Linked DNA regions of Homo sapiens. The protein of the gene in region 3 purifies or fractionates together with the protein of the main gene of each other region. This does not show direct contact. Each region holds a gene or a part of one and is shown on either strand. Other genes may lie near its edges. The genes, in order: HSD17B4, GFPT1, ABCC6, PSAT1, PHGDH, MYDGF and ALDH1A1.

Region 1 (3,780 bases), on a different chromosome or scaffold from region 3:
TTTAAGGAAAAAAAAAAAGACATATTCCCCCAACTGCTGGGCAAGCCAACTCCAGGAATTGCTCTGCCGCTTTGACCAAGGTCATGGCCCCCTTGCAGGGCAGGTCATAACCAATGACTACTTGCCTCAGGACAATTCTGAATGGCCATCCCAGCTTCAGAGCTCCCCAAAAGATCAGTCCAGGCCTTATGGTAACTGCAACCACAGCCTAATGTCTCCATCTGCCCAGCTCTGCTTCCTTTGCTTCTCCTGGCAGGTGCTGCTCATAAAAGCACCTCCCAAATCAACTTCCTGCACATGAATCTCCATCTGAAAGTCAGCTTCCTGGGAAACTCAGCCCATACTAGCCACCCACACATATTCTCCTCAGCTGTGTTACCTGATTGAAATTTACTCCATCTCTGAGCTTAGCATACCACCTGCTGCTGGTCACCTCTGCAGCCAACTCATCCAAAGAGCATCTCCCAGTGCACTTCATCAGAGCTAAATGCTGAGGAAAACAGTGATGTGGCAGTACTTGCTAGTGACTATCTTTCTGTTTTGAGACTGCTGATTCTTCAAGAAAGCTACACTTGGTAGATTTATAAACATTATATGTAGTAAAGAATTTCCAGCAAAGGGGAGGGGAGAAGAAAGAAAACTATTTGGGAGCACAAAGACTTTTCTCTTGCTTTAAAAGAGAATACTATCAGAACAAAGTATGAAAAATGAGTGCATACATGGAAATTCACATAAAAACTGGGGTATCAATAAATAAAAAAACAGAAAATCACAAAAAAACAAAGGTATCAAAGGCCTTTATTGATTTAATTTTCCTTTCAACTTATCAATGCTATCACAAATTCTAAGGAAACAGGACTTGGGCAAAATTTTTTATTATGAAGATACAGATCTAAGAACAGAAGGATAATTATGTGCTAGCTTATATATAGTTCCTTGTAAAAATAATGATACATGAAAAATTAGTAGAAAATGAAAATCTGCAGTTATCTGATATCTGAAAATGTTAAGCAATTTCCCCTGCATCTTAGTTCTAATCACTTTTGCAGAATAATCAAGCATATTTGGGTGAAGAGAGTATTTAATGATTCCATTTTTATTAATAGTGTAGTGTGCCCTTCAGAGCTTGGCGTAGTCTTTAAGAATCATCTGAAGTTTCTGGCTCAGCATGATGTTCCCTCTGGCCTTCAGCCTGCCACTAAAGAATGCCTGCAAGGAGAGGAGGGAAAAAGAGTGCCAACTGTTACCATGTTATAGTTTATTTCTTTTTTTTTTTTTTAAGATTATTCAGACTGAATACAATTGAGCTAATAATTCTGGACAACAAAGGCAACCTTTATTTAGCAATGACAATTTAATAACTACAGATAGCACATTTTTTTAGACATCTAAAAAAAAGAAAAATCATTCCTGTGTATTTTAGAAAACTATACAATAATTTATCTGAACTCATGGATCTGGGAGTTCTGTTTCAACCTACGTTTCTGGCTTTACTTTATGTTCTTACAATTTGAGACCATATTAATAAAAGGCTACACTGTATTCCTAATAAAAATATTCAATTCAGAACTTCTAAAAGCAGATTTAAAATATTTACTACAGTTTCATGAACTAGAAAGCCACGAAATGACAAATTAGAGAATATAACACAATGTTGAATAGATCACAGCTGTAGCATCAGAATGCCTGAGTTAAAATCCAGGCTGTGCCCCTTAATAGCAAGGTGAGCTTGAGAAAATGCTTAGATACGTGGCCTCTGTGAGTTTCAATCTCCTCATCTATAAAAGGCATAACAACAGTCCCTAAATAACACAACTCTGTTGTGCGTGTTAAATAAAGTAATGTGTAGAGTGCTTAGCTTAGTAGTTTGACATGTGATAAGAGAGTATTAATTCATCATTACCAAGCAAAAGCTGGTGTGTTAAAAACGAAGGGTTCCTGTAGCAGTTTTGTATCTAACCTGATACAGAAACTGGTGCAAGTTCCTTAAGTTCTCCTTCAGTGTAAATTCCCTATCAGTAAAATAAAAATAATCAATCATAGTTTTTATAGCTTACATAAAATATGAAGTGAAAAAGCCTCTAGATTTCTAGCTAAATGGAAAAAATAGTGATACCTACATACACTGAGCATTACAAAGCAGCTCCACAAATATAATCTCATTTAAGAATTACAGCTGTCAATTTGAAGTGGGCACATCAGCAGTTCTTACCCCAGTTGACAGATGAGAAACTGAATTTCAGAGAGCTTATTAAATAACCTGCTCAAGTCTACAGAGCCAGCAAGAAGTAGGGCCAGGGCTTAAACTCAGGTGTTCTTTGCTCAGCAATGCTTGTTAACAATACTTGTTAACGAGCAGCACTTAGTCTCAGAAGCAAACCCTCGTGAACTGGAGAAAAGGCAACAACTTTTTATTCCAGAAATAGTCAGAGAGAGCTCATTCAGTCACAATCAAATGCATTCAAACAGGAGACCAGAATTTCAAAACTAAGATTTCTTTCACTATGCAGTTACAAAAAACAAACAAACAAAACGATGGTCTGCAACTCATGCAGGGAAGGAGTCAGTACTTAGGCCAGCCTGCTATGTACTAAACTCTGAAAGAGATTTACAACCTAAAACAAGAACACCTAATTACTAGAAGTAAAAATATCAATTTTGGACATTTTTGAGCAGAAGAATTTTGTACATAAATCTTTCCTCCTATCTATTTTCTTATTTCTTAAAGCCCTTAACCATACGTCCATATTGCCAGTTTCCAAACTCTGCACTGCCATGCACCGGACATCACAGCAAACTCTCTCAGGGACACTTTCCCAATACTGTTAATTTGGGAGGGAAATACAGTCATACTGGTTGAACACAAAAAACTAATTGTTTTGAACTACTTCATAAATGAAACTGTTAGGTATATGGTTTGGCCTAGGAGTGCCATGCAAAAAGTAGTAAGACTATAAACTGCCATAAAGGAAGAAGGTCTGGAAGCACTGTGCTTTCCAGAAAGGCTATACCAACTACTGATTGATTGACACAGGGTCTTGCTCTGTCACCCAGGCTACAGCTGCATGATCACACTCACTGCAGCCTAAGCCTCCTGGGCTCAAGTGATCCTCCCAACTCAGCCTCTCAAGTAGCTGGGACTACAGGTGTGTGCCACCACACCAGGCTAATTTTTTTTTTTTTTTTTTTTTGGTAGAGACAGGGTCTCACTGTCTCACCCAGGCTCAAACTCCTGGACTCAAGCAATCCTCCTGCCTTGGCCTCCCAAAGTGCTGGAACTACAGGCACGAGACATTGTCCCTGGCCTATACCAATTTTATATTCCCTCCAGTTGTGTGTAAATTATCTTATCCCAACCTTAAAAATACTATTTTCTTACACTTTGAAAATATGAGGCAAAAATAACATGCTTTAATTTGTATTTTTGGATACTGGGAAAAATTTTTTTCTTTTGTATGTTAGTCATTTCTATTTATTTCATTAATTATTGTTCCATACCTTTTGTCCACTTCTTCTTTTTTATTATTATTATTATACTTTAAGTTCTAGGGTACATGTGCACAATGCGCAGGTTTGTTACATATGTATACATGTGCCATGTTGGTGTGCTGCACCCGTTAACTCGTCATTTAGCATTAGGTATATCTCCTAATGCTATCCCTCCCCCCCTCCCCCAACCCCATGACAGGTCCCCGTGTGTGATGTTCCCCACCCTCTGTCCAGGTGTTCTCATTGTTCAATTCCCACATGTGAGAACATGCGGTGTTTGGTTTTTTGTCC
Region 2 (3,944 bases), on a different chromosome or scaffold from region 3:
CCACTAGAAGGGGCTCCATGACACGTCTCTTGCACATTTAACATTCTGGAGCTCAAATCACTAGTTAAGTCATGACATCTCTATACATTCCCTCACAGTCAACCTATGTCATCATCTTTCTTGAGAAAAAAAAGCATGTACTTCCTGCTCACAATCTTCAAATATTCCATCTCTCTCTCTTCTGACCATTCACATCAGACTACAATTTTTCATCATACTGCCAAGTCAAACCCTCTGGGTCCACTGTGCTCTGACTCCTAGTCTCTGAGCATCTCTACACTGAACTATGACAGCCAAGGAGAACTCATCTATCCTATCCATTTCGGTCCACTTTCGGATGGGCCCTCCGAACTGCTGACCAATCCTATTAATTCATCACTTGCTTAACTTTCAAACTTCTCCCAGATATTATTTTAGAGTCTAAGCTACATACTACTCTCAAATCCTCATTTTCTCTTCCCAGCTTCTTTTTCATTTTTGGTAGATTCTTACTTTATAGAATTAAAGTCTTTTTTTTTTTTAGACAGAGTCTCGTTCTGTCACCCAGGCTGGAGGGCAGTGGCGCTATCTCAGCTCACTGCAACCTCCACCTCCTGAGTTCAAGCGATTCTCCCGCCTCAGCCTCTTGAGCAGCAGCTGGGATTACAGGCGTGTGTTACCACGCCTGGCTAATTTTTGTATTTTTAGCAGTGACAGGGTTTCACCACGCTGGCCAGGCTGGTCTCGAACTCCTGACCTCAGGTGATCTGCCCGCCTCGGCCTCCCAAAGTGCTGGGATTATAGGCGTGAGCCACTGCGCCTGGCCAGAATTAAAGTCTTCATTTTCTTTTTTTGTTTTTAAAATATAGAGACAAGGTCTCAATATGCTGTCCGGGCTGGTATCAAACTCCAAGCCTCAAGTGATCCTCCCACCTCAGCCTCCCAAAATGCTGAGTTCACAAGCATGAGTCACTGCCCCTCACCCATCTTCTTTTCAACAGTTTAACAATATATAAATACTTCTCATCCTTCCTTGTAATCTCAAGAGAGACATATTACACATACTACTCTCTGAAGCTAGCCTCTCCCCTACTTGTAACTTTTTTTTTTTTTTTTAACAGTCCTGCTCTGTCACCCAGTACCCAGGCTGGAGTGCAGCAGCACAATCATAGCTCACTGCAGCCTCAAACTCCTGGACTCAATCCTCCCACCTCAGTCTTCTAAGTAGACTGGACTACAGGTATGCACCACCATGCCTGGCTAATTTTTTTTTTTTTAATAGAGATGGGATCTCACTATGTTGCCCGGGCTGATCTTGAACTCCTAGCGTCAAGCAATCCTCCTGCCTCAGCTTCCTGAGTGGCTGGGATTACAGGTGTAAGCCAAAACACTGGCTACTTATAACTCTTTTTTTTTTTTTTAATTGAGACAGAGTGTCACTCAGTCACCCAGGCTGGGGTACAGTGGCGTGTTCTCAGCTCACTGCAACCTTCACCTCCCAGGTCCAAGCACTTCTCCTCCCTTAGCCTCCCAAGTAGCTGGGATTACAGGTGCGTACCACAACAGCTGGCTAATTTTTGTATTTTTAGTAGAGATGGGGCTTCGCTATGTTGGCCAGGCTGGTCTCAAACTCCTGACCTCAAGTGATTCGCCCACCTCAGCCTCCCAAAATGCTGGTATTACCAGAGGGAACCCCACACTGGGCCTTACTCCTAACTCTTGATGAGTGTTTCTCCAACTTTGTAAATACAGAACTCTTTTGTTAACATCAAAATATTCTGAGGCTCCTTCACAACAATGGGTTAAATTTTTATTATTCAATGATCTAGAACAATCTTTATTCAACTTACAGACAAAGTTATAAGCATATGAATAAGCAATGAACACCCTGTAACAACTTCAGGGCTTGTAGGTCAGGAACCACAGCTCTAGAATTCAACTTCTCAACACTCCCAGGGGACCTCAATCCCAAAATCCTCTTCTTTTTCATATTACTTGCAGCCCTCCTCCTAAACACAAACTGAGACCCTTCTGCCTTGACATATGCAATTTCTCTAATAATTTCTTCATAACCATATCCAATTAACTTCTCTGCAGTATTACATATGAATGACCTTTTTCTACTTTTATAGACTCTGTTCAAGGCAATATACTACTTTGGAACTCTTCTGCCTTTAACCACTGTTCCTTGGTCTGTTTTCCTGGCACTTCTATTTCCTCCTTCATCTGGTAGTAGTTCTCAAACTATTTCCGCCTCCATTCACTGACGGTTAACATATGCCATTAATGATTACCTCTCACAGTATACTAATACTCTACAAGTTGAGTAAAAGTCCTGCCCCATCACCCAGAACATTCCTGAACCTAACACAGAAACCCAAACCCCAGAGCTCTCCAGTCTCTAAATTTCTACTCATTCTACTTGTGGTCTATGACATGGCAATGAACAAGGACTGTGTATTTTCACCTGAAGCTGTTGCATGTGCATTCATTTTCTTTCCTCTGATCAGGCAGCAATTTCTTGAAGGCAACTCTCTTATTTTAGTCATCTCTGCAAAGGGCAGAGTGCCAAGTATAAAGCCATCATTTCAAATACCTGCAAGTATCTTCTAACACTTTCTAGGCACCTGAAATATACGGTCAAAAAATTCTCAAACCACAGAAACAGAACACTATTTCACCGGATGCTAAAAAGGAATGAAGTAAAGAAAGGTTTCATAATTAAAGGTTTAAGAACTACCTGGTTAAAGTTAGGTATATATTTAGAACTTTCTGGAACCTTTAATCTTGCTAATTGTGAATCTCCAAGAGCAGAATTTCCCAAACTTGTGTTACAAAACCCTTTCCCGCCTTCTACTGCTCATTACCAGAACCTATTAACCTCCATTTCCAGGGGACAATTGAAGAAATGCTTATTAAGCAATTATTTTCTCTCACAACTTCTTCATATCCAGTATATGTAAGGATATGTTAATAGTACTGGTTTTATGACCAATCCTAGCAGCCAATCTCAGCATCCCTCAATTATCTCCAAAGCCATTAGACAGTATAATTACAAAAAACTTTTGAAAAATTCATTTTAGGATACTTTAAAATTGCAAGTTCCTTTACTGCTTTTAAAAAGGATCTCATTTGCAAACATTCCATTTATTTATTTATTTATTTACTTATTTATTTATTTATTTTGAGACAGTCTCTCACTCTTGTCGCCCAGGCTGGAGTAGAATGGCACTATCTCAGCTCACTGCAACCTCCACCTCCTGGGTTCAAGAGATTCTCCTGCCTCGGGCTTCCGAGTAACTAGGATTACAGGCATGCGCCACTACGCCCGGCTAATTTTTTTGGATTTTTAGTAGAGACAGGGTTTCACCATGTTGGTCAGGCTGGTCTCAAACTCCTGACCTCAGGTGATCCACCCACCTCAGCCTCCCAAAGTGCTGGGATTGCAGGCGTGAGCCACCGCGCCCATCCCCAAAATTCCATTTTATATACACCGTCGAATCAGAAGGGTATAACTTCACATTTATAAAAACAATAGCAAAATCTGTTAAAAGCTAGGGATAGCTTAAGTGACTTGACACTCAGCAAAACCAAAAATAATGCAAATAAAAAGGACAAAGTATATTCCAAACTACCAAGAAAAAGGAAGATAAAATAAATTTGGAAAATAGACACACTATTCTTCTCTGGGAGATTCTCAATGCTTATTATTAATACATTAAAGATTCCAAGAAATCCTCCAATCAAAAAACAAAACAAAACATTACCACGCGATTTAATATGTTGCTTCCCAAATTTACTGGACCAGAGGATCTTTTTTCCTAACACTTATTAACATCCCAATACAAGCTGGTAAACATATCAATTTTATCAGTATATCTGATTGAAAAAAAGCACATCAGAATCTTCAATCCTCATTCTTCTGCTTCAACAATGCACAACGTTGAAATAAAATAATCTTTTAG
Region 3 (3,944 bases):
TTTTTTGGTAAATGTCAAGTGTGGACTGGGCACAGTGGCTCATGCCTGTAATCCCAGCACTTCAGGAGGCTGAGAGAGGAGGATTGCTTGAGCCCAGGAGTTCGAGACTAGTCTGGGCAACATAGCAAGACCCTATCTCTGTGGACAACAGTATTAGCCAGGTATGGTGGCATGCACCTGTAGTCCTAGTTACTTGGGAGGCTGAGGTGGGAAGAACGCTTGAGCCAGGGAGGCGAAGGTTGCAGTGAGCCGATATTGCACCACTGCACTCCATCCTGGGCTTCGTCTCAACAACAAAAAGCTGTGTGGAAAGATACACATAAAATTTACTATCTCAACCTTTTTTTTTTTTTTTCTTTTTCTTTGGAGACAGGGTCTGGCTCTGTCATTCAGGCTAGAGTGCAGTGGTGAGGTCAAGGCTCGCTGCAACCTCCACCTCCCAGGCTCAAGCATTCCTCCCACCTCAGCCTCCCGAGTAGCTGGGGTTACAGGTGTGAGCCACCAGGGCCAGGTAATCTTTTTATTTTTTGTAGAGACAGGGTTTCACCATGTTGCCCAGGCTACAGTCGAACTTGCGTAGGCCTCCCAAAGTGCTGGGATTACAGGTGTGAGCAGCCACGCCGGGCCCATCTCACCCATTTTTCAGTGTATAGTTTCTGTAGTGTTAGGTACATTCACACTGTTACACAACAGAACTACAACTCTGTACCCATGAAACCCTAACTCTCCTTGTCCCCTCCCCCAGCGCCCAGCCACCAGCATTCTCCTGTCTCTCTGAGTGTGACTACTCTAGACACTGCATAGACGCAGAATCATAGGATCTGTCCTTTTGTGACTGGCTTATTTCACACAGCATGATGTCTTCAAGGGTCATCCACATCGTAGCATGTGTCAGATTCTCTACCTTTTTAAGGCCGAATAATTTTCCACTACATGGATAGACCACATTTTGCTTATCCGTTTATCTGCCAGTAGATACCCAGGCTGTTTCCACCTCTTGGCCGTTTTGAATAATGCCACTATGAACATAGGTGTATAGGTATATGCCTTTAGAAAAACCAAAGTGGCTGGGCGCGGTGGCTCATGCCTGTAATCCTAGCACTATGGGAGGCCGAGGCGGGTGGATCACCTGAGGTCAGGAGTTCAAGACCAGCCTGACCAATATGGTGAAGCCCCGTCTCTACTAAAAATACAAAAATTAGCTGGGTGTGGCGGCAGGCGCCTGTAATCCCAGTTACGTGGGAGGCTAAGACACTGAGACAGGAGAATCGCTTGAACCCGGGAGGCAGAGGTTTCAGTGAGCCAAGATTGTGCCACTGCACTCCAGCCTGGGTGACAGAGTAAGACTCCGTCTCAAAAAAAACAAAAAAAAACCTAAGGTGTTCTGGATTTATAAACCCCTCTGACCCTGAGGGTGTCCGAAGGGCTTGTGGTAGGCAATAATTTCCAGCACTAGAGAGGCAGCGTTGCTTGGTGGGTAAGAGTATACACAGGTGACAGACTGCCTGGGCTCAAATCCAGGCCCCCCACCCCACACCCCCACCCCCGCCCCGCCCTGCCACTTACTAGCTGTAGGATCTTAGGCAACTTATCTTGTGTGCCTCAGTTTCCTCATCTGTAAGGTGGGAATAATAGCACCTACCTACCTTGCAAGGATTGAATTATATGCACAAAGTTGTTGAAACAGTGGCAGGCATAGAGCAAAGAGTAAATACTCATTTTAGTCCTGAGTCACACTCCTGATAACATCATTTCACAGAGTTGGAATTGGAGGCCTGGGGCTTGCCTGACGTCACACAGCTTAAAAGTAGTGAGGTTGGGACAAGACCCAGGCACTCTAACGCCTGCATGACCATAGTAGGTTCTGATCATGTAAAAGGATGCTGTTTCATGGAAGGGCTTACTGTGCAAGACAGCCATGCTGGGGCCCCAGGGGTCAGTTCCCACCTGGGTCAGGGGCTCACTGGGCTCACAACCTGGAATCTCAACTCCTCCACCCTCCACGAAGGGTGCTACTCCATGCCAAGGGCTTATTCTGTGACAAGCCTACACACTTTTTTTTTTTTTTTTTTTTTTTGAGACAGAGTCTTGCTCTGTCGCCCAGGCTGGAGTGCAGTGGCGCGATCTTGGCTCACTTGCAAGCTCTGCCTCCCGGGTTCACACCATTCTTCTGCCTCAGCCTCCTGAGTACCTGGGACTACAAGCGCCCGCCACCACGCCCGGCTAATTTTTTGTATTTTTAGTACATACAGGGTTTCACCGTGTTAGCCAGGATGGTCTCGATCTCCTGATCTCGTGATCCGCCCACCTCAGCCTCCCAAAGTGCTGGGATTACAGGTGTGAGCCGCCGTGCCCCGCCACCCACACACTTTTATGTGCCATGTCGTCACGATTCAGCGAGGACGGATCCATTAGGAGCACAGACTCTGGGGTCAGAGGACTTGGGTTCAAATTATGGACCCACCACTAGCCTTGAGACCTTGGTCAAGCCACTGAGCTTCTCTGTATCTGTGTCCTCTTCTCTCAAAAGAAGAGAACAATAATATCTACCTTGGTGGACATTATGAGGATTGAGTGAATATATACAAGCACTTAGAATGTGTTTGGCACAAGGTGGAAACTAGAAATAGAACTGGACATAGCCATAAACAGGCCAGGCACGGTGGATCACGCCTGGAATCCCACCCAGGTGTTGTACACATCTGTATTTAAGGCCCACGTGACACCAGCCTTGAATGTCTTAGGAAGACTGTAGATTTGATTCTTGAAGCAGCAGTCAGTCATTGTAGGTTTGTTTGCAACGGCATGACTGAAGTGAAAGCTGTGCTTTCGCTGTTGGGGGAAATATAAATTAGTACAGTCACTATGGAAAATAGTATGATGATTTCTCAAAAAACAAACTAGAAATAGAACTACCGGGGCGCAGTGGCTCACGCCTGTAATCCCAGCACTTTGGGAGGCTGAGGTAGGTGGATCACCTGAGAGTTTCAAACAAGTCGGACCAACATGGTGAAACCCCATCTCTACTTTAAAAATACAAAAGCCAGGCATGGTGGCGCATGACTGTAATTCCAGCTACTTGGGAGGCTGAGGCAGGAAAACTGCTTGAACCGGGAGGCAGAAGTTGCAGCGAGCTGAGATTGTGCCATTGCACGCCAGCCTGGGTGGCAGAGCAAGACTCCGTCTCAAAAAAAAAAAGAAAAACGAAGAAGAAAAAAAGAGCCATAAACAGAAAAAAGAAAATAGCCATTTCACAGGTGGGGAAACTGAGGCACAAAGGGTTTGAATGACCTGCCTACAGTCAGCCTGCTCAAAGATGGCAGGAACAGGCTTCCTATCAGTTCTGCAGACCACAGACCCCAGACCCCATGTGTGGGGATGCCTGAACACAGGCACCTCACTCCTGCACTGCTTCAGGGACCTGTTTCTGGGCACACCCACACATCACCATGTGCCGACAAACGCACGTCCCAGCTAATTGTCCCAATCGTTCCCAGCGTGGGCCAGAAACAGCTCCTGTGTCTGGCACGTGCCCTTCTCCGGAAGACCCAGATCCTCATCCTGGACGAGGCTACTGCTGCCGTGGACCCTGGCACGGAGCTGCAGATGCAGGCCATGCTCGGGAGCTGGTTTGCACAGTGCACTGTGCTGCTCATTGCCCACCGCCTGCGCTCCGTGATGGACTGTGCCCGGTAAGGCTCCCGCCCCGGCCTGACCTCACAGCAGCCCTGCAGTGGTGGGGGAAGGAGGCGGAGGCAGTCCTGGGCCACTGGGCTTCGGGTTAGAGCTGGAGGGGTCCTGAATGGGGCCAGAGCGGGAGGAATGCCCGGGAACACATGCCAAGTGGGAAAGCTGCCCAAGGACATGCGCCCAGCACACGCTTCCAACCCAGCTGTGAGGGCCAGGGAGCCGCATGGAAAGCAGGACTTCTATGGAGAAAACCT
Region 4 (4,642 bases), on a different chromosome or scaffold from region 3:
AGCAACCAGCCAGAGAAGGTCTACAGATAGGAGGCACCTTTTTTTTTAAGATGCTTGCTAAGGAGGGCATCATTAAAACACAGCTATAACCTAAACTGGATTGCAACTTGTCTCAAAAAACAGTATTTTAACAATAAAGAATTAGACAAGGCCGGGCGTGGTGGCTCACGCCTGTAATCCCAGCACTTTGGGAGGCCAAGGCGGGCAGATCATGAGGTCAAGAGATTGAGACCATCTTGGCCAACATGGTGAAACCCCGTCTCTACTAAAAATACAAAAATTAGCTGGGCTTGGTGGTGGGTGCCTGTAATCCCAGTTACTCAGGAGGCGGAGGCAGAAGAATCGCTGGAACCCGGGAGGCGGAGGTTTCAGTGAGCCGAGACCAAGCGACTGCACTCCAGCCTCGTGACAGAGCTTGACTTCTCTCAAAAAAAAAAAAAAAAAAGAATTAGATTAAAAAAAAGACTGCCTTGACGACTGGGTCTAAGAATGTGTTATTGTTTTCTGAAATGTTGGATGCTTGTTAGCACCAGCTGATCAAATAAAATAGAGTGAATCTTTTCTTTTAGTAAAGAGAAACATTCATCTGTGAATAATCTTTGAACTTGCTCCTGAGACTGTATCTTTCTTATAGACAGCATTCATTGAAAATAGTTCTATAAAAGTTTATAACCAAAATAATTACAAACAGTTTTAAAGACTCCTACTGAAAAATCACACCTCCCTAATCCAGTAGGTTTTTTTTTTTCCAGTTGAAGAATGCATTGCTTTTGTGGATCATAACCAATTTTTTTTTTTTTTTTTTTTTTTTTTTTGTTAAGAGACAGGGTCTTGCTCTATCACCCAGCCTGGAATGCAGTGGGACAATCACAGTTCACTACAGCCTCAAACTCCTGGGCTCAAGAGATCCTCCCACCTTAGCCTCCTGAGTTGCTTGGATTACAGGCGTGCGCCACCACACCCAGCTCACGACTAATTTTTTTAATGAAACAGAACAGACTAGAGCAGGATAGAATACAAAATAGTGTATGTCACAGGTAATTAGGCTACACATCATTTCATAAGGCATTTATTTTTGTTACAATTGAATGTGTATACTTTGTCATTTTGTAAACATGTTTTTCACTGTAGGTTACAGTCAAAAGAAGTTTGAAAGCTTCTCTAATATTTACAATTCAACTAAATCAAGGAAATACATAAAAAGCAACATCTGCCTGCCCCCTCACCCTCCTGCCCCCCAGGTTACATGCAGTCCAAGGGCAAAAATCCTCCCAGAAAAATTAATAACAAATAATTGTATTACTGATGACAATTGCCATTACAATTATAGTAATAAATTAATAACGAAATACATAGGGAACAAACGTTGGGAACACTCCAAAACATGGGGGGTGCAGGAGGAGGCTACAGGAAACATCTCCACAGCTGGAGCAGGGAATCTCGCCTAAAATGAACTGTAACCACTGAGAAAAAATAAGCCCTGTCCTCTCAGCTACTGTGAGCGCTGCCCCTAGAAAAGTAAGAAGTCCTTTCCCCTTTAAAATTGGATTCTCTGTTCTTACCACAACACAGAGGAGGCTCTGTCCCAGGGAGATTTCTACTCTGCTCAACAATTGATAATTGTAAAATACTTGGCTATGCCTCATGCTGCTCCAACATATTATCAGCTCTATCCTGGTTAGAAAAATAAAAATCTAACGGCGGCGGCAGCCGCCTGACAATGGGCTCAAGGCACATCGGAGACTTTGCCTTCTTCACTGCGGGTGGGGCTGGGGACGGTGGGTTTGGCGGGGGAGGGGAGGAGCCGGGCTGGGGCCTGGGAAGGCAGAGAGTGAGTTCCACCAGCAAGATCTGATTGTGGCCCGGGAGAGAATTCAATCACTCGGTTTACTCCAGAACGAAATGAACAGGGAATTGGGTTAAGCAGCCCAAAGTCTACCAGAGTTAGAATACTCGAACGCCTTTAGGGGACAAGCAGGTTAAAAAAAGGAGGGGGGTGGGGAGAAAGGCTTTAGGAAAGGGTAGGTTCTATGGGGGACAAGGAGGGGAAAGCTGGACTGAAGGTTTTCAAATTTACATTTCTGAAAAGCAGTGTTCCTAAGTGCTGGCTAAAGCAAACACTGGTGTAAGGCGTAGGGGGGCACGCACACGCGGACCTTTAAGTTTGCAATCCCTTTCAGCTAACGTGATCCACTGCATATGCAAAACCTGTCATCGGTTCATTCCCGTTCATCACTCATTCACACTATGTCCATTCATGCATCCGCTCCACACTGCCCGGGCTCGCCGCACAGCTGCGCGAGGCGAAGGCAGAGATCAGAGCTTTTTCTTTTTCGCCCCGCCCCAGCCCCCGGACCGGCCCAGGAGATGGCACAGCCCGGGCGTCTGCAGGTGCGTGGCACCGGCGGGACAGCAGGCCCCGGCCAGCTGAGTCGTGCACTGCCTCGCACCAGCAGTCAGGGCCAGGGGCAGCTGCACGGGCACGCCTCGCCGAGCTTCCTCACCAACTGCATTCTTCCCGAAGCCCGCTTGCCGGAGCTGCTGATCCCGCTGTGCACGCTGATGCAAAGCGCCTAGGGGACTCAAGGCAGGGAGCGGGAATCCGACTGCCACACGCAGGGATGCAAACCCACCCGCGTGCGTGCTCCCGCCTGAACCTCACTCCCGGCGCCCGCTCGCGGGGACTTACTGAGTGCGGCAGCTTGGCGGGACCAGGCCCAAAGTTGACCACCTGCCTGGGGGCGTCCATGGTGCGGCGGCCAGGGCGGTGAGTCAGCCAAGGAGGACCGAACGCGTGAACGGCTGGCGTTCCTGGCCGCTGCGGTGAGAGTCTGCAGCCGGCCCCGAACCCCCGCCTTGTTCCTGCGCCGAGTCGGCGCCCCATTGGCCCGTGCTGTCGCAGGCCCTGCGCTAATTGGTTCGCGCGAAGGAGCTCACATCCCCATTGGTCGCGCTTCTGAGCCGAGTCGAAGCAGTTGCTCCTCCTCGCGTTTACTGTTTCAACCCCCATTTTTGATCAATGCAAGGAGCGCGCGAGATTGCGCCAGCCAGCCGAGCCGGCTCGGCTGCGCGCCCGCCCGAGGATTGTGGGCGGCGGGAAGAGGCTGCCCCTGCCAACCTGCCTTCGCCCCTTGAGCCCGCAATCTGGCCGGTTCCAGTCCTCCAACCCCAGAGGACCTCAGCTCCTCTCTCTTGGCTGAAAGGGCAGTTGCCGAGCAGATTTGTAGCCCCCATCCACCCACCTCTCCACCACCAGCCCCCAGTTTGGGCTGTGATGTATTTGTTCCAGAACCACCAGTCACTAATCTACCAAACTTTTCTAAGCACCCCCCACGGGCGTCAGATACCCCAGTGGAGAGAGAGGACCCCCCCAAGGTTGGAAGCGCAGGATGAAGAAGGGCCGGGGGTGGGTGGATACGGTTCTTTGTATTTGCACGTGGGTCCTGAGTTCCTGCAGGATTAAAGAACGGAGGTGGCCAAGGACGCAGGGAGGAGCGATAGCCTGGGAAGCGTGGATGCCCGCCAGGCAAGTCCTTTAAAGTCGCTGATTCTCCATTTCCTCCTTTGGGAAACGAGTGAGCTGGAAACCTGCGACAGCTCTCAGGTTGCGCCCGCGCTGACAAGCTGTGAGTTTAGAAACGTGAGGAGATATTAACAAGAACGCGATACCCATAGGGCGCTGCAGCCCAAACCAGAAGAAGGTGGCCCCTAGCCAGGCCAGGCGCAGGGCCAGAGCTGCTCAAACTTTTCCACAGAAGTGTCCTTCTCAAAAGAACTCCAGTGGAGACCCGCATGGGGTTCTGAAACAGAATACCCTCCCCCTACCCTGCAAGAAAGAAGTTCCTTTGAAGTCTGGAATTTCATCATTTTTAAACTGTGAATTTTGCATTCTCTACCATAATTTAACCTAGTTTCTTTTAATGTAAAAATATTTTCCCTGTCTGAGTAAAATTGATGCGCCAGGAATATATACAGTCCAACTGCCCCGTTTAGAGAAGGCTTGTAACTGGACAGGACTTTGGCTTTTGTTTGCTTTTCCTAATGAGAATGTGGGCGGTATGGGGCTGAGAGCAGAGGCACTGCTCTGGATCTGGGAATTGGAGGACAAAGTTTCCAGAAAAAGGCAAAATGAACAAGGCCCCTGCGTTCCTCAGCAACTTCATTAAGAAAACCGCGACATTCAAGACAGAATAAATCTCAGCCCAGAAACTCAGGCATGCAAGAAGCATCACATATCCATTATTTTACGTAAATAACTCAGTTATTATATATTAGTAGCTGCCCCTAGCAGCTTATCTACTGGAGACTAAGGGAGTCAGCCTTCATCCTTCCTGGAGTTAGTTCCTAACACCAGGGCTATACACAGTCCCATGTAGTGGGTTGGGAGAAGGGACAGCACATCCATTTGGTCCTCTGTTCCCAAAAGATATGGCTGAGTTGTTTCCACTGCCCAAGCTGATGTGGCTGCTTGGGTTGATGAGCAACCTACTACTTCTGTATCCCACTAGGGGCACAGGAATTTGGGGTGGGGTGGCGGTGGCTATTGTCTCATCTGCTAAGACATCCCCTGCAGCCATTCCTCCCGGGGGTCCTGCAGTTTCCAAGATGGTATTTCAGGGACACAAGTCACACATACAGTCAG
Region 5 (4,425 bases), on a different chromosome or scaffold from region 3:
TGAGCATCTCTGATTCTGCTTCTGATTCTAGGTGACTTTAATCCCAAATTGAATTTTCTGACATTTCTGTAAAATGGGGCATGAGAGAGCACGTCGGTTATGGGGTTTAAATATAAAAGAGTTAAGAGCTGAGAAGTGCCTCCTTGGTCAATTAAACCACACTGACATCCCGTTTTCCTTTTCTTCTTTTTCATAATTAGAGAGGAAGTGGAGGGAAAGGAAATAAATAACTTTAACAAAGTATGCCTAGTTTAAATGCACCAGGTCCCCGCTCTTTTATAAACTCATAATTCTCATTGCATCACTAATTTGAAATTAATCACAGCTCCTTGGTGTCTCAGAAAGCTTCCTATTGCTTTTCACTACGTAACTTTCCAAGTCTGTGTGTTTGGTACTCTAGGATGTTAGGCCACCAGAGGAAAGAGGATGTATCTTTTTTTTTTTTATACTTTAAGTTTTAGGGTACATGTGCACAATGCGCAGGTTAGTTACATATGTATACATGTGCCATGCTGGTGTGCTGCACCCATTAACTCGTCATTTAGCATTAGGTATATCTCCTAATGCTATCCCTCCCCCCCTCCCCCCACCCCACAACAGTCCCCAGAGTGTGATGTTCCCCTTCCTGTGTCCATGTGTTCTCATTGTTCAATTCCCACCTATGAGTGAGAATATGCGGTGTTTGGTTTTTTGTTCTTGCGATAGTTTACTGAGAATGATGATTTCCAATTTCATCCATGTCCCTACAAAGGACATGAACTCATCATTTTTTATGGCTGCATAGTATTCCATGGTGTATATGTGCCATATTTTCTTAATCCAGTCTATCATTGTTGGACATTTTCTTTTTGATAGTCGAATTCCCTTCAACGTCTAGCACAGTGCCTTGCACATTTACCCACTCAAAAAAAATTTCGTAAGGAATTAATAAATGAATCCTTAGGAGGAAAAGTGAAAATGAAGTTTTTCTCTCAGGATGAGGTGTATTTCTCCGTTCATTTCAGATATGCATCAGCTAGTCAGCGTAAATTGTGCTTTTTATATGCTCACCAGGTGTAGGTAAGAGCTTTGGCTGAGATGGAGAAATTCATCGCGGGAGGATAATAAAGCGGGCAGGGATTTGGCAACCTCAGAGCCGCGAGGAGGAGGCGGAGTCGCGGAGAGTTTGAGTATTTCCGTCCAATCAAAAGGAGACTGTAAGAGGAGGAGGAGGAGGAGATGACTGGGGAGCGGGAGCTGGAGAATACTGCCCAGTTACTCTAGCGCGCCAGGCCGAACCGCAGCTTCTTGGCTTAGGTACTTCTACTCACAGCGGCCGATTCCGAGGCCAACTCCAGCAATGGCTTTTGCAAATCTGCGGAAAGTGCTCATCAGTGACAGCCTGGACCCTTGCTGCCGGAAGATCTTGCAAGATGGAGGGCTGCAGGTGGTGGAAAAGCAGAACCTTAGCAAAGAGGAGCTGATAGCGGAGCTGCAGGTAAGGCGAGAGAGAGAAAATTGAGGTCTCTAGGGCAACCTCCATGGAAAAAGGCTGGCTGCGCCCAGGCCAGCGCGCCCCCCTCGCATGCACCCCGTATCAATTAGTTCCGGGGCCTCCTGAGATTGGGGGGTAGAGAAGAACGGGGGCGGGAGGAGGCAGAAAGAGGGAAGAACAAACGGCGGCGAGATGCAAACTTTTCTTTTAGTTTGCAACCGCGTCTTTCACGTTGGCATGCCTCCGCTAGCATTGCAAAGTGCGGGCTGCTCCAACTGGTCCTGCAGGCTGCTCGCGGATGCCAGCGCGGGATGCCAGCGCGGCGCCCCAGCGCCTTAGCGCGCAATTGTTCTGGCAGCCTCGCGCCGCCTCTCCCCCAACCCCCAACCGCCTCCGCGCGGGGCGATCGGGAGAGGGGCCCCAAAGTGGCTTCTTTGCGGGGAACCCAGGGACTGGCGATTCTTCCCAACCAAGTTCTGGGCCGCCCCGCCGATTCTAGCCTGCCTTGGCGGTGGCGGGGTTGGGGGGGTCGGGGGGCGGGGGGAAGCTGGCGGAGACCCAACCAGTCTGGTGGCTGCTGGGGCAGCTGGAGGGGAAGGCAGCCCTCGTAAGGCAGCAAACACGTACCCGCCCCTCGTCTGATGCAAGACTGCTCCGTGCTTTCGCCGCCCCTCTGCCTCCTGGGAGCCTTCGGAGGAAAGGGAGGCGGGCGGGGAGCGCTGGGGTCCAGATTTAGCCTCCTCCCCACCTTTGGTTTATCGCTGGTTGGGAGTGACCAGACTCGACTAGAATCCGATCCCAAACGCTCCCAGATGATTTATAGTCTTAGCAAATTTTTATCTCCTTTTGTTGTGATATATAATTAATCTACTTCAAATCTTTATCCACCGTGTTTGAAAAGGCCTGCTGGGCCTGGTGGCCTTGTCCGGAATATTTATTTTGTGAACTCTTCACTCCAGTGCCTGCACTTTCGACCTCTGTAGTCGACCCAGCTGCCCAGTCTCTACCTCACCTGATCCAGTATATTCTCCCCCACCCTCCAAATCGCACAACCGCCTTCTGCCCGCCTCAGCCCTGTCCACCACCTTCAGCCGTCTCCTCCTCCGAGGACCCCTTAGACCGCAGAGGCTGCTGTTGTTGCTTTAGTTGTGCCACAACCACGTGGTCCTGGAAACTGCCTCGCTCACTTTGTCTGCCTTTGTATCTGCTGGCGTGGATCTTGTCACCATGGCATGACACTATATCCAAGTATCCAGCTCTGCCCTGTACTCAGAAGAATTTGGTCCCTGCCTTCAAGAAGTTTGTAAGCTGGTTAGGGAGCATGGCTAATACGCAGGAGACAGTTGAGCAGATGACACAAGAGCATAGCCCCGAATTAGACCATCCAGCTCCCTAACCTTTGCGTGTTCCCCTTCTGGAAAAGCCAGAGAAAGGTCCAATCATCATGCACAGAATTGGTGGGCAAGGGCTTAGGACTTGAGTAGGATTGGACGGGTGGCAGGCTCCTCACATCTGTCACCTCCTTTCTTGTGTGAAATTGTATCAGTGGCTCTGGGGAACAACCAGGAAAGGCAGTGGGGTGTCCTGCAGAACAGCCTCTGACTCTCACCTCCACCAGAGCACCAGGTTGGGAAGAGGGTGGCAATCAAGTGCTTTCACCTCTCTAAAGGAAATTAGAAACCTGATACCCCAGTGAGGGGGTGGGGATAGGGAGGGATGAGGGCAGAATTGAGAGGAATGGGAGGCCTCATCCATAATGAGGGGTTGTTCCATGAAGTCAGGAATCAGCTGGGTGGATGCTGGGAGTCTGGTGCTGAAACTTGGAGAACATTTTAAAGGCGCTGAAAACTCTTGGCAGGAGAGGAGGAGTGTTTGTTGGCTAACTTGACTGCTGGGCATTTTTGGACTGTTTGGGAGGGCTCAGCTTTCTTGTCTGTCTTTGCAACACATTTGGTTCAGAATGCCAATTAATCTCCTTGGTCAGCCCACTGAAGGGTCCTCATTTCTACACTATGCCTTTTTATTCTGCATGAAGAGGTGTCTGGCATAGTGTCTCCTGCCCTCCCCCACTGAAGTCTCTTTAATGCTGAAGGAAGCTTCGGCAGCGTTGCTAGAACCGGGCCTGGCCTTGGTTCCCACTGCCTTGTATTCTGGGCAGGCGGTCTCCTCTCACTCACCCCCTGGTCAGGAAGTACAATCATTCCTCCCTGCCCTTTCAGTGGTGCTTTTCAGACTTGGAGCAAGTCATAGTTCAGTTTAAGGGGTCATGACGAGCATTTTAAAAAACAAAGTAGGAAATATCAGACAGCAATGCAGATAGATAGTAAGGTTGTAAGTATTGTTTCATGAATTTTGTTTCATTTATGTTGTGTAGTTGTATGTGTGTGGCATGTGAGTATGAAATTACAACTTAAAAATGTGTTTCTTGGCCGGGCGCGGTGGCTCACGCCTGTAATCCCAACACTTTGGGAGGGGCCAAAGGAGGCAGATCATTTGAACTGAGGAGGTTGAGACCAGACTGGGCAACATGGCAAAACCCTGTCTCTACAAAAAATACGAACATTAGCTAAGCATCTTGCACAAGCCTGTAGTCTCAGCTACTGGGGGATGGGGTGGAGGGCTGAGGCCCTGGTTGCTGTCACTCTTCCCAACCTGGTGCTCTAGTGGGAGGATCGCTTGAGCCTAGGAGTTTGAGGCTGCAGTAAGCCATGATCTCGCCACTGCAATCCAGCCTGGGCAACAGAGCTAGACCCTGTCCCACCCCTCCACCAACAAAGATGTGTTTCTTACAATGAACCTCAGTCAAAAAAGTTTGGAAAACGTTGGCTTAAAATAATAAAGCATCTTGTTTGGAACTCACATCTTAAATATACCTAATATGCCGGAAAATATTTAAATAATATTACCATGTATCAGTGGCTTTTAAACTTTGACTGTGACCCACAATAAGA
Region 6 (3,944 bases), on a different chromosome or scaffold from region 3:
TCATGCCTGTAATCCCAGCACTTTGGGAGGCCGAGGCGGGTGGATCACAAGGTCAGGAGATCGAGACCATCCTGGCTAACACGGTGAAACCCCGTCTCTACTAAAAATACAAAAAATTAGCCGGGTGTTTTGGTGGGCACCTGTAGTCCCAGCTACTGGGGAGGCTGAGGCAGGAGAATGGCGTGAACCCGGGAGGCGGAGCTTGCAGCGAGCCAAGATCGCGCCACTGCACTCCATCCTGGGCGACAGAGCGAGACTCTGTCTCAAAAAAAAAAAAAAAAAAAAAAAAAGGGTGATTTGAAGCACATGGACACATACGCCACTGCTGCCCTTGAGGGAACTGCAGGGCAGGGAATACACGCGGCCTCTAGGAGCTGAGAACAGCCTCTGGCTGGCAGCAAGGAAATGAAGACTTCAGTCCCGCAACCAAGAGGAACTGAAATCTGCCACAACCACAAGAGCTTGGAAGAGGACCTTGAGCTACCAGTAAGAGCCTAGCCCGGTCAACACCTTGAGATGGGTTTCGCCATGTTGGCCAGGCTGATCTTGAACTGCTGACCTCAAATGATCAGCCTGCCTCGGCCTCCCAAAGTGCTGGGATTACAGGTGTGAGCCACCGGTGCCCGGCCTCCTAGAGATTTTTCTGTATCCTATGTAAAGCGCTTCAGTTGCATGGACGTGTGGAGTTGACAATCCCGTACTAATGGATTGAGGGTTACTTCCAACCCAGTCCGTGAATAACCTTGGCCAGGGTTCATTGTACAAGTGCAGTTACATCTGTGGGAAAACCACCCAGAAGTGGGATTCATGGGTCCATTTTCTTAAAAGTAAAACTGGGCTGGGCGCGGTGGCTCACGCCTGTAATCCCAGCACTTTGAGAGGCCAAGGCAGGTGGATCGCCTGAGGTTGGGAGTTTGAGACCAGCCTTGCTAAGATGGTGAAACCCCATCTCTACTGAAAATACAAAAGTTAGCAGGGCGTGGTGGCACGCGCCTGTAATCCCAGCTACTCAGGAGGCTGAGGCAGGAGAATCGCTTGAACCCACGAGGCAGAGGTTGCAGTGAGCTGAGATCGCACCACTGCACTCCAGCCTGGGTGACAGAGCGAGACTCCATCTCAAAAAAAAAAAAAAAAGTAAAACTGTATGTTTTGAGATCATGGTAGATTTACATTCACTTGTAAGAAATCCTACAGAGAGATCCAAGTACCGTTTAACCAGGTTCCCCGGTGGTAACATCGTGCAAGAGGCCAGTCATTTTAGAGATGGGGTCTCGCTATGTTGCCCAGGCTGGTCTCGAACTCTTGGGTTCAAGTGATCATCCCACGTTGGCCTCCCAAAGTGCTGGGATTACAGGCATGAGCCACCATGCCCAGCCTGCATTTTCCATTTTGCTTGTACCTGTTGCAGCTCCACCGACAACCTGGAATAGTCTTGGTTTTCACACCCATATGGTGTGTTAGCAGACAGGAGGGCTTTTGCCCTTCTGACCTGGGAGAAAAAGGTATCTCACGATAGTTCAGCTTGTGTTTATTTATTTTTCATAAATGATATGGGACATCTTTTTTTTTTTTTTTTTTTTTTTTTTTTTTTGAGACAGAGTCTCGCTCTGTCGCCCAGGCTGGAGTGCAGTGGCGCGATCTCAGCTCACTGCAAGCTCCGCCTCCCGGGTACACGCCATTCTCCTGCCTTAGCCTCCCGAGTAGCTGGGACTACAGGCGCCCACCACTGCGCTCGGCTAATTTTTTGTATTTTTAGTAGAGATGGGGTTTCATCATGTTAGCCAGGATGGTCTTGATCTCCTGACCTCGTGATCTGCCTGCCTCGGCCTCCCAAAGTGCTGGGATTACAGGCGTGAGCCACCGCGCCCGGCCTGGACATCTATTTATATGTTTAAGAGTTGTTCTTAGGCCTGGCATGGTGGCTTATATCTGTAATCTCAGCACTTTGGGAGGCCAAGGTGGGAGGATTGCTTGAGGCCAGGAGGTTGAGACCAGCCTGGGCAATATGGCAAGACAGTGATTCTACAAAACACAAAAATTAGCTGGGTGTGGTCCCAGCTACTTGGGAGGCTGAGGTGGGAGGATCGCTTGAGCCCAGGAGGTAGAGGTTGCAGTGAGGCGAGATCGTGCCACTGCACGCCAGCCCAGGCCACAGAGAGAGACTCCATCTCAAAAACAAACAAACAAACAAACAAACAGCGTTGTTCCTATTTCCCCATCCGTGGGAGCCACTTTGGGGTAGTTCTCATTAGAGGCACCACTTTTATGGGAAGGATGTGGTGCAGGCAGGCTCCCTGATCACAGATGACAGCAAACCCCAGGCCACCAGGAGGGCGGGGCAGGGGATTTAGTGGCCAGCCCCTGAATCGGGAGGTACAGAAGAGGTGGCCTGACTGTAGAATCAGAGGCACACCTAGAAGTCTCCGAGAGCAGCTGTGTGTCCGGGGCTGACCCGCGCTGTCTTCTCTCCCCAGCAATGGCAGATGAGTCTGGGGACCAGCGAAGACCACCAGCACTTCACCTGCACCATCTGGAGGTGAGACTCGGGGTGGGGATGGCATTTCCGGCTGCCGTTGGCCTGCCCTGTGGCCTCAGGAGCTGCTTTGGAAGGCAGGGAACGAGGGCTGCACCCCTGGAGGGGAAGACAGACCAGCAGGGAGACTCATGCACGTGCAGGTGGGGGGTGGCAGGGTCGCTGGGGTGGGAGTGCTCCCCAAGGAAGTGCACTGATGCAGAGACTGAGAAGGTCTGGGGGAGACGGGGGGAGCCTGTGCGGGGCAAGGTCCCAGGAAAAGGAGAAGCAGCTCAGAGGGTGCGGAGCGTGGACCAGGGCCCAGGAAGGCCCCAAGGGGCTCCACCCTCCCCTAAGGGTGAGACGAACTCACCAAAGGGCTTTTTGGCAATTTTTTTTTTTTTTTTTTTGAGATGGAGTCTCCATCTTTTGCCCGGGCTGTAGTGCAGTGGAGCAATCTTGGCTCACTGCAGCCTCCGCCTCCTGGGTTCAAGCGATTCTCCTCCCTCAGCCTCCTGAGTAGCTGGGATTACAGGCGTGTGCCACCATGCCTGACCCTTTTTGGCAATGTTTAAAAACTGAGATAAAATTCCATAAAGCACAGCATTTTAAGCTCACAATTCAGCTGCATGGAGTACTTTCTCAGAGGTGTGCAGCCAGACCTCTGCTTCCAGAACATTTTCATCCCCTGAAAATAAACTCTGTTCCCATCAGAGTCATTCTCCTTCCCAGCACATGGCAGCCACGCATCCCCCTCCTGTCTCTGTGGATGGGCGTGTCCTGGACATTGCATAGAAATGGGGTCAAACCTTCCCTGTGTGGCCTTTGGTGTCTGGCGTCTCTCACTGAACGTGACGTCCTCAAGGCTCATCCATGCTGAGGCCCGTGTCAGCCTCATTTCTTTTCCTGGCTGAGTCCTATTCCAGAGGGCTCCCTGCAGGAACATGTGGAGCTCAGATCCCCCCGGCTGAAGGAGGCAGGCTGAGGCAGGGAGCCCCTCCAGGCACCAACCAGGATGGAGTCGGGGGTTGGGGGTGGGGCGCAGATTGAAGCCTGTGCAGAATGAGGATGGGGTGGGTGGAGAGGGCACAGATTGGAGGCTGTGTAGAATGAGGATGGGGTGGGTGGGGAGGGTAGATTGGAGGCTTTGTAGAATGAGGATGGGGTGGGTGGGGAGAGCACAGATTGGAGACTGTGTAGAATGAGGACAGGGTGGGTGGGGAGGGTATACTGGAGGCTGTAGAATGAGGATGAGGTGGGGAGGGTAGATTGGAGGCTGTAGAATGAGGATGGGGTGGGTGGGGAGGGTAGATTGGAGGCTGTGTAGAATGAGGGTGGGGTGGGTGGGGAGGATAGATTGGAGGCTGTGTAGAATGAGGATGGGGTGGGTGGAGAGTGCACAGGTTGGAGGCTGTAGAATGAGGATGGGGTG
Region 7 (3,944 bases), on a different chromosome or scaffold from region 3:
AATGAGATAGAAAGAGCACTGGGGTTTAGAAATCAGAATCTCACTACCCTTTGTGCCCAGATCTTGCTATTTGACCTAAAGGAAGTCATTTTAACTCTTAAAAAGTGGAGGTTAGACAAGATGACAAGATTTCTTCTATTTCAAAAATTCCCTAGCACATGATTGCTGAAAATATTTACTACATATTTTTAATCTAAAACTTATGGAATTTTAGATTTGGTGTTTGACATGTTTTTCAGACAATGGAGTCAATGAATGGTGGAAAACTCTATTCCAATGCATATCTGAATGATTTAGCAGGCTGCATCAAAACATTGCGCTACTGTGCAGGTTGGGCTGACAAGATCCAGGGCCGTACAATACCAATTGGTAAGTATCTTTGAGAAACCACTAATGGTGAGGATAGGAGCGAGGAGTTTACTATAGAGCTGAATAATTTCAAACTCTCCCTTTTAAAGATGTCAACCAAATAAGGCAAAATTATTTTCCTCTTGACTTTGAGACAACACAGTTTTCAACTTAGAAGTTCTATTAAAATTCATAAAAGGTCTTTTAAAGTTGTTTCAGCATAATCATGAAGATAACATTATAGATATTTTAGAAAATGTCAAAGTAAGAACATTCCTTTGGCAGTAATTACTGATCTGAGGCAATTGCCTCTCTAAGGTCCCAAACTTTTTAAAGCTGACCTCTGAAATTATTTATTTGGGTTTTATTCCAATACTGACATTTATATCCTTTCTGTAATGTAATTATTTAAGCCTCTTTACATGTTCCAGTATAAGTCAGTTATGGTCATCTGTGCCTGGTCAAACTCAGTGTAGTTAGACCAGACTAATCAAACAAGCCAGTTCACACGGACTCGTTTCAAATATCTTCAAAGCAAGATGGGACTGTGTTTGCAGCCTAAGTTAAGGGTTTGTGTGTGTGAATCTGTACGTATGTGTTATTTTAGTGGGGTATGCACATAATGGAGTAGAAATACTAAAGATATTTCATGTGAAACATGAAAACACACACATTTAGGAAACAGTATGGGTGGAATTTAATTCAGGCAAACCTATGAACTTTAGGAATACAATACCCTCCAGGACTGGCCCTGATGTGCACTTCCAATCCAATTGGAGCATGCAGGAGGTCAGAAGTGATAGCAGAAAGTTGAGAGGAGAGTAAGACCTCGGTGGTACTAAGAAATGTGGCTACTTTAGAACTGTCCTACTTTACTCCGGGACAAAATGGGAGAAGTCACTTAAAACACAAATAGATCTTGATGAAGAGAGTCCTTGCTGAAACCAGGAAGCTTCTGTGGGAACTAGAACAGAATTGAATGTAAAGCATAATGTATCTCTCTGGATGACCACATTAAACTTCGGGGCACATAAATTGGTCAAATTTAGATTGAAAATAAATGTCTTATACTCCTGTCATTTTCTTCATGTATTTAGAGAATTTGCTATTATTGTTTGGTAGGCAAATAAAATACATTTTAGAACAAGTCAGTAGGAAAGGCTTATTACTCATAGGGAGATTTTCTTTTTAATTCTACTGTTTTTAATTTTACTATTTCTAAAAATTATATTATAACTTTTAAAAAGAATTCTCTTATTGGTAGAACTTTGAGCTACCAGAAACAAATTGGAATGTGGTTCTTCTCTTCGCCAGAGACCTCCTACTTCCTTTCTCGTCCCTTTTTTATAACACTTAGAGAATAAAGATAATTTTCAAATCAGGCCTCCTAGAAGATGAAAGGTGGAATTAATTATCTTTCAGATTTTTGCCAATTTTGCCTCTTTGATTTCACCTAACTCAATTTTATGGTTCCTATCATTTCGAATTACTATTTTAGGGCTTCACTTACCATTTTGGGAATAGTTGGAGATATAGATGGTCTCGATCTCTTGACCTCGTGATCTGCCTGCCTCGGCCTCCCAAAGTGCTGGGATTACAGGCGTGAGCCACCACACCTGGCCAGATATATGTTTTTAAAATTATTGTCTACACCTTTCTCTCACATCACCAACCACCATTTTGTGAATGTCAAATACATTTGTTTATATATGATTGTGTGTGTTTTATTTTTCAGATGGAAATTTTTTTACATATACAAGACATGAACCTATTGGTGTATGTGGCCAAATCATTCCTGTAAGCTTTTCTCCTATATAATTCTCAATTTTAAAAAGAAGAGTTCTTATTCTATCTAATGATGAAGCTTTCTCTAAAACAGATGGATGCTTATGTATTTGTTAAATGTGGAGTAAATGTAAGATTTGTTGAACTTGGTCTCCCTGTGACTAAACTTCTTGCATATGAATTAGGTAGTCCGAAAACCTATCTATATTCTGGCATATCTCTTGAGAATGTTTTAATACTACATCATCCATAAATGTTAACCCTTTACTCTATGGGTTGTTTTATTAAAAGTTGTATTATGTACTCTTTATAAGAGCCAAGCTTTACATGTATATGGCAAGGTGCTCTCCACTGCACATCTGCAGGATAGCATTTTGGTGGAATGTAGTGGGGCCTACTATTCTCCAACGCACTTTCTCATTGAGACATCTCATCATGCAGAACAGTAGCTCCCAGAGTGTTCAACTCATGACACACATTTTTTAATCAAAATGGAAAAAAGAATACCAGAGGCATTTGAAGCACTGCATGGAATATATTTTACCTTTAGATAAGAGGCTCAGATCCTCCATATTACTCTTAGAGGAAAGTAGCCTTTTTAAGAGGATTGTGAAGATTTTTTAAGCCCAACAAACAGGACACTATCTAAATGATTTTATTTTAACTGACATGCTTTAAAAGGCCAAACAAAAAAATGGTAGCGAAGTCCTTATGTGAAGAAATGGTCAAGACTTATCTTTGGCTCCAATGAGATTGAAATATATTCATATCAATATTTTAGTGAAATTGCTTATTAATTCAAAAGTCCCAATAAATCGATAAAAACTATATAATTATGAACACTGATAATAGCTGATATGTACTACTTGTCTATGCTAGACCAGTCATTGTGTTGAGCCCCTGGCCCTCTTTCTTGGTTAATGCTCAAGACAGCCTTCTGAGGCAGAGAGGACTATTATCAGCACTCACAGATTATGAAATCAGATACAGAGAGCACGTAACCTGTGTGAGTTCACATGGCTGGTCAGTGATTGAGCTGAGATTTGAACCCAAGTACTTGGCCTCTGGACCCTGGACATCTTTGTCTTTAGCAAGGTATTTTTCCTGGAAATAAAAGCTACTAAATAATATTATTGGGTAAATAATTACAATAAATGACTTATGGAGAAGGAGAGTAATCATCCTTTTTAAACATTTTTAGATAACTTACAGTGTGCTCCATAATAAGCCAAACCATGCAGTGATTTTTTTTTTCCTGGTAGAAAAAGAACTCAACAGTACTTGATTAAATTTTGAGGTTCTCTCCTATTTCCTTCTCATATCTCATATCTGGTTTATTCAGAGCGTTTTAGCATTTACTAGTTGCTTTTAGCAATGAAGTATAATATGCCAGATGATTTCACAAAACTACGCAATTATTACATAACATCTACAGGGGGTGTATAATATGGAAGTTGGATTAGCAAATATGCCTTTTGCAATACAAAGAATCTATTGTTACATATTGCTTTCTAGTGGAATTTCCCGTTGGTTATGCTCATTTGGAAGATAGGGCCTGCACTGAGCTGTGGAAACACAGTGGTTGTCAAACCAGCAGAGCAAACTCCTCTCACTGCTCTCCACGTGGCATCTTTAATAAAAGAGGTAAGTCTCCCGAAATCAAAATATGCTCAAGAACTCAAGAATCCTAAATTACAATAGGAAGACCTCATTTGTTGCTACTATAAAGTACATTATTTACAGATGGCTCCTGTCCAGTGGGGGGAATACATTTAGCATGACGGCTGGCTGCAATTTCTGGCAGTCACCCC

The links.
Region 1: the proteins of ABCC6 (region 3) and HSD17B4 purify together in Homo sapiens (affinity purification with mass spectrometry, with the first as the bait; one large-scale study listed by BioGRID). This does not show direct contact.
Region 2: the proteins of ABCC6 (region 3) and GFPT1 purify together in Homo sapiens (affinity purification with mass spectrometry, with the first as the bait; one large-scale study listed by BioGRID). This does not show direct contact.
Region 4: the proteins of ABCC6 (region 3) and PSAT1 purify together in Homo sapiens (affinity purification with mass spectrometry, with the first as the bait; one large-scale study listed by BioGRID). This does not show direct contact.
Region 5: the proteins of ABCC6 (region 3) and PHGDH purify together in Homo sapiens (affinity purification with mass spectrometry, with the first as the bait; one large-scale study listed by BioGRID). This does not show direct contact.
Region 6: the proteins of ABCC6 (region 3) and MYDGF purify together in Homo sapiens (affinity purification with mass spectrometry, with the first as the bait; one large-scale study listed by BioGRID). This does not show direct contact.
Region 7: the proteins of ABCC6 (region 3) and ALDH1A1 purify together in Homo sapiens (affinity purification with mass spectrometry, with the first as the bait; one large-scale study listed by BioGRID). This does not show direct contact.

Annotation. Positions count from the first base shown.
Region 1 is NC_000005.10:119,539,334-119,543,113, reverse strand, and holds the end of HSD17B4 (peroxisomal multifunctional enzyme type 2), read right to left. Parts: intron 1,210-3,780; coding exon 1,120-1,209; 3' UTR 782-1,119; downstream 1-781. UniProt on the Homo sapiens protein: Bifunctional enzyme acting on the peroxisomal fatty acid beta-oxidation pathway.
Region 2 is NC_000002.12:69,380,478-69,384,421, forward strand, and holds part of GFPT1 (glutamine--fructose-6-phosphate aminotransferase [isomerizing] 1), read right to left. Parts: intron 2,607-3,944; exon of another isoform or gene 2,529-2,606; coding exon of another isoform or gene 2,447-2,528; intron 1-2,446.
Region 3 is NC_000016.10:16,150,326-16,154,269, reverse strand, and holds part of ABCC6 (ATP-binding cassette sub-family C member 6), read left to right. Parts: intron 1-3,497; coding exon 3,498-3,692; intron 3,693-3,944.
Region 4 is NC_000009.12:78,295,318-78,299,959, reverse strand, and holds the start of PSAT1 (phosphoserine aminotransferase), read right to left. Parts: upstream 2,836-4,642; 5' UTR 2,750-2,835; coding exon 2,690-2,749; intron 1-2,689. UniProt on the Homo sapiens protein: Involved in L-serine biosynthesis via the phosphorylated pathway, a three-step pathway converting the glycolytic intermediate 3-phospho-D-glycerate into L-serine.
Region 5 is NC_000001.11:119,710,684-119,715,108, forward strand, and holds the start of PHGDH (D-3-phosphoglycerate dehydrogenase), read left to right. Parts: upstream 1-1,250; 5' UTR 1,251-1,339; coding exon 1,340-1,477; intron 1,478-2,047; exon of another isoform or gene 2,048-2,115; coding exon of another isoform or gene 2,116-2,175; intron 2,176-2,228; exon of another isoform or gene 2,229-2,777; intron 2,778-4,425. UniProt on the Homo sapiens protein: Catalyzes the reversible oxidation of 3-phospho-D-glycerate to 3-phosphonooxypyruvate, the first step of the phosphorylated L-serine biosynthesis pathway.
Region 6 is NC_000019.10:4,663,468-4,667,411, reverse strand, and holds part of MYDGF (myeloid-derived growth factor precursor), read left to right. Parts: intron 1-2,474; coding exon 2,475-2,536; intron 2,537-3,944. UniProt on the Homo sapiens protein: Bone marrow-derived monocyte and paracrine-acting protein that promotes cardiac myocyte survival and adaptive angiogenesis for cardiac protection and/or repair after myocardial infarction (MI).
Region 7 is NC_000009.12:72,925,317-72,929,260, reverse strand, and holds part of ALDH1A1 (aldehyde dehydrogenase 1A1), read left to right. Parts: intron 1-239; coding exon 240-369; intron 370-2,083; coding exon 2,084-2,145; intron 2,146-3,648; coding exon 3,649-3,777; intron 3,778-3,944. UniProt on the Homo sapiens protein: Cytosolic dehydrogenase that catalyzes the irreversible oxidation of a wide range of aldehydes to their corresponding carboxylic acid.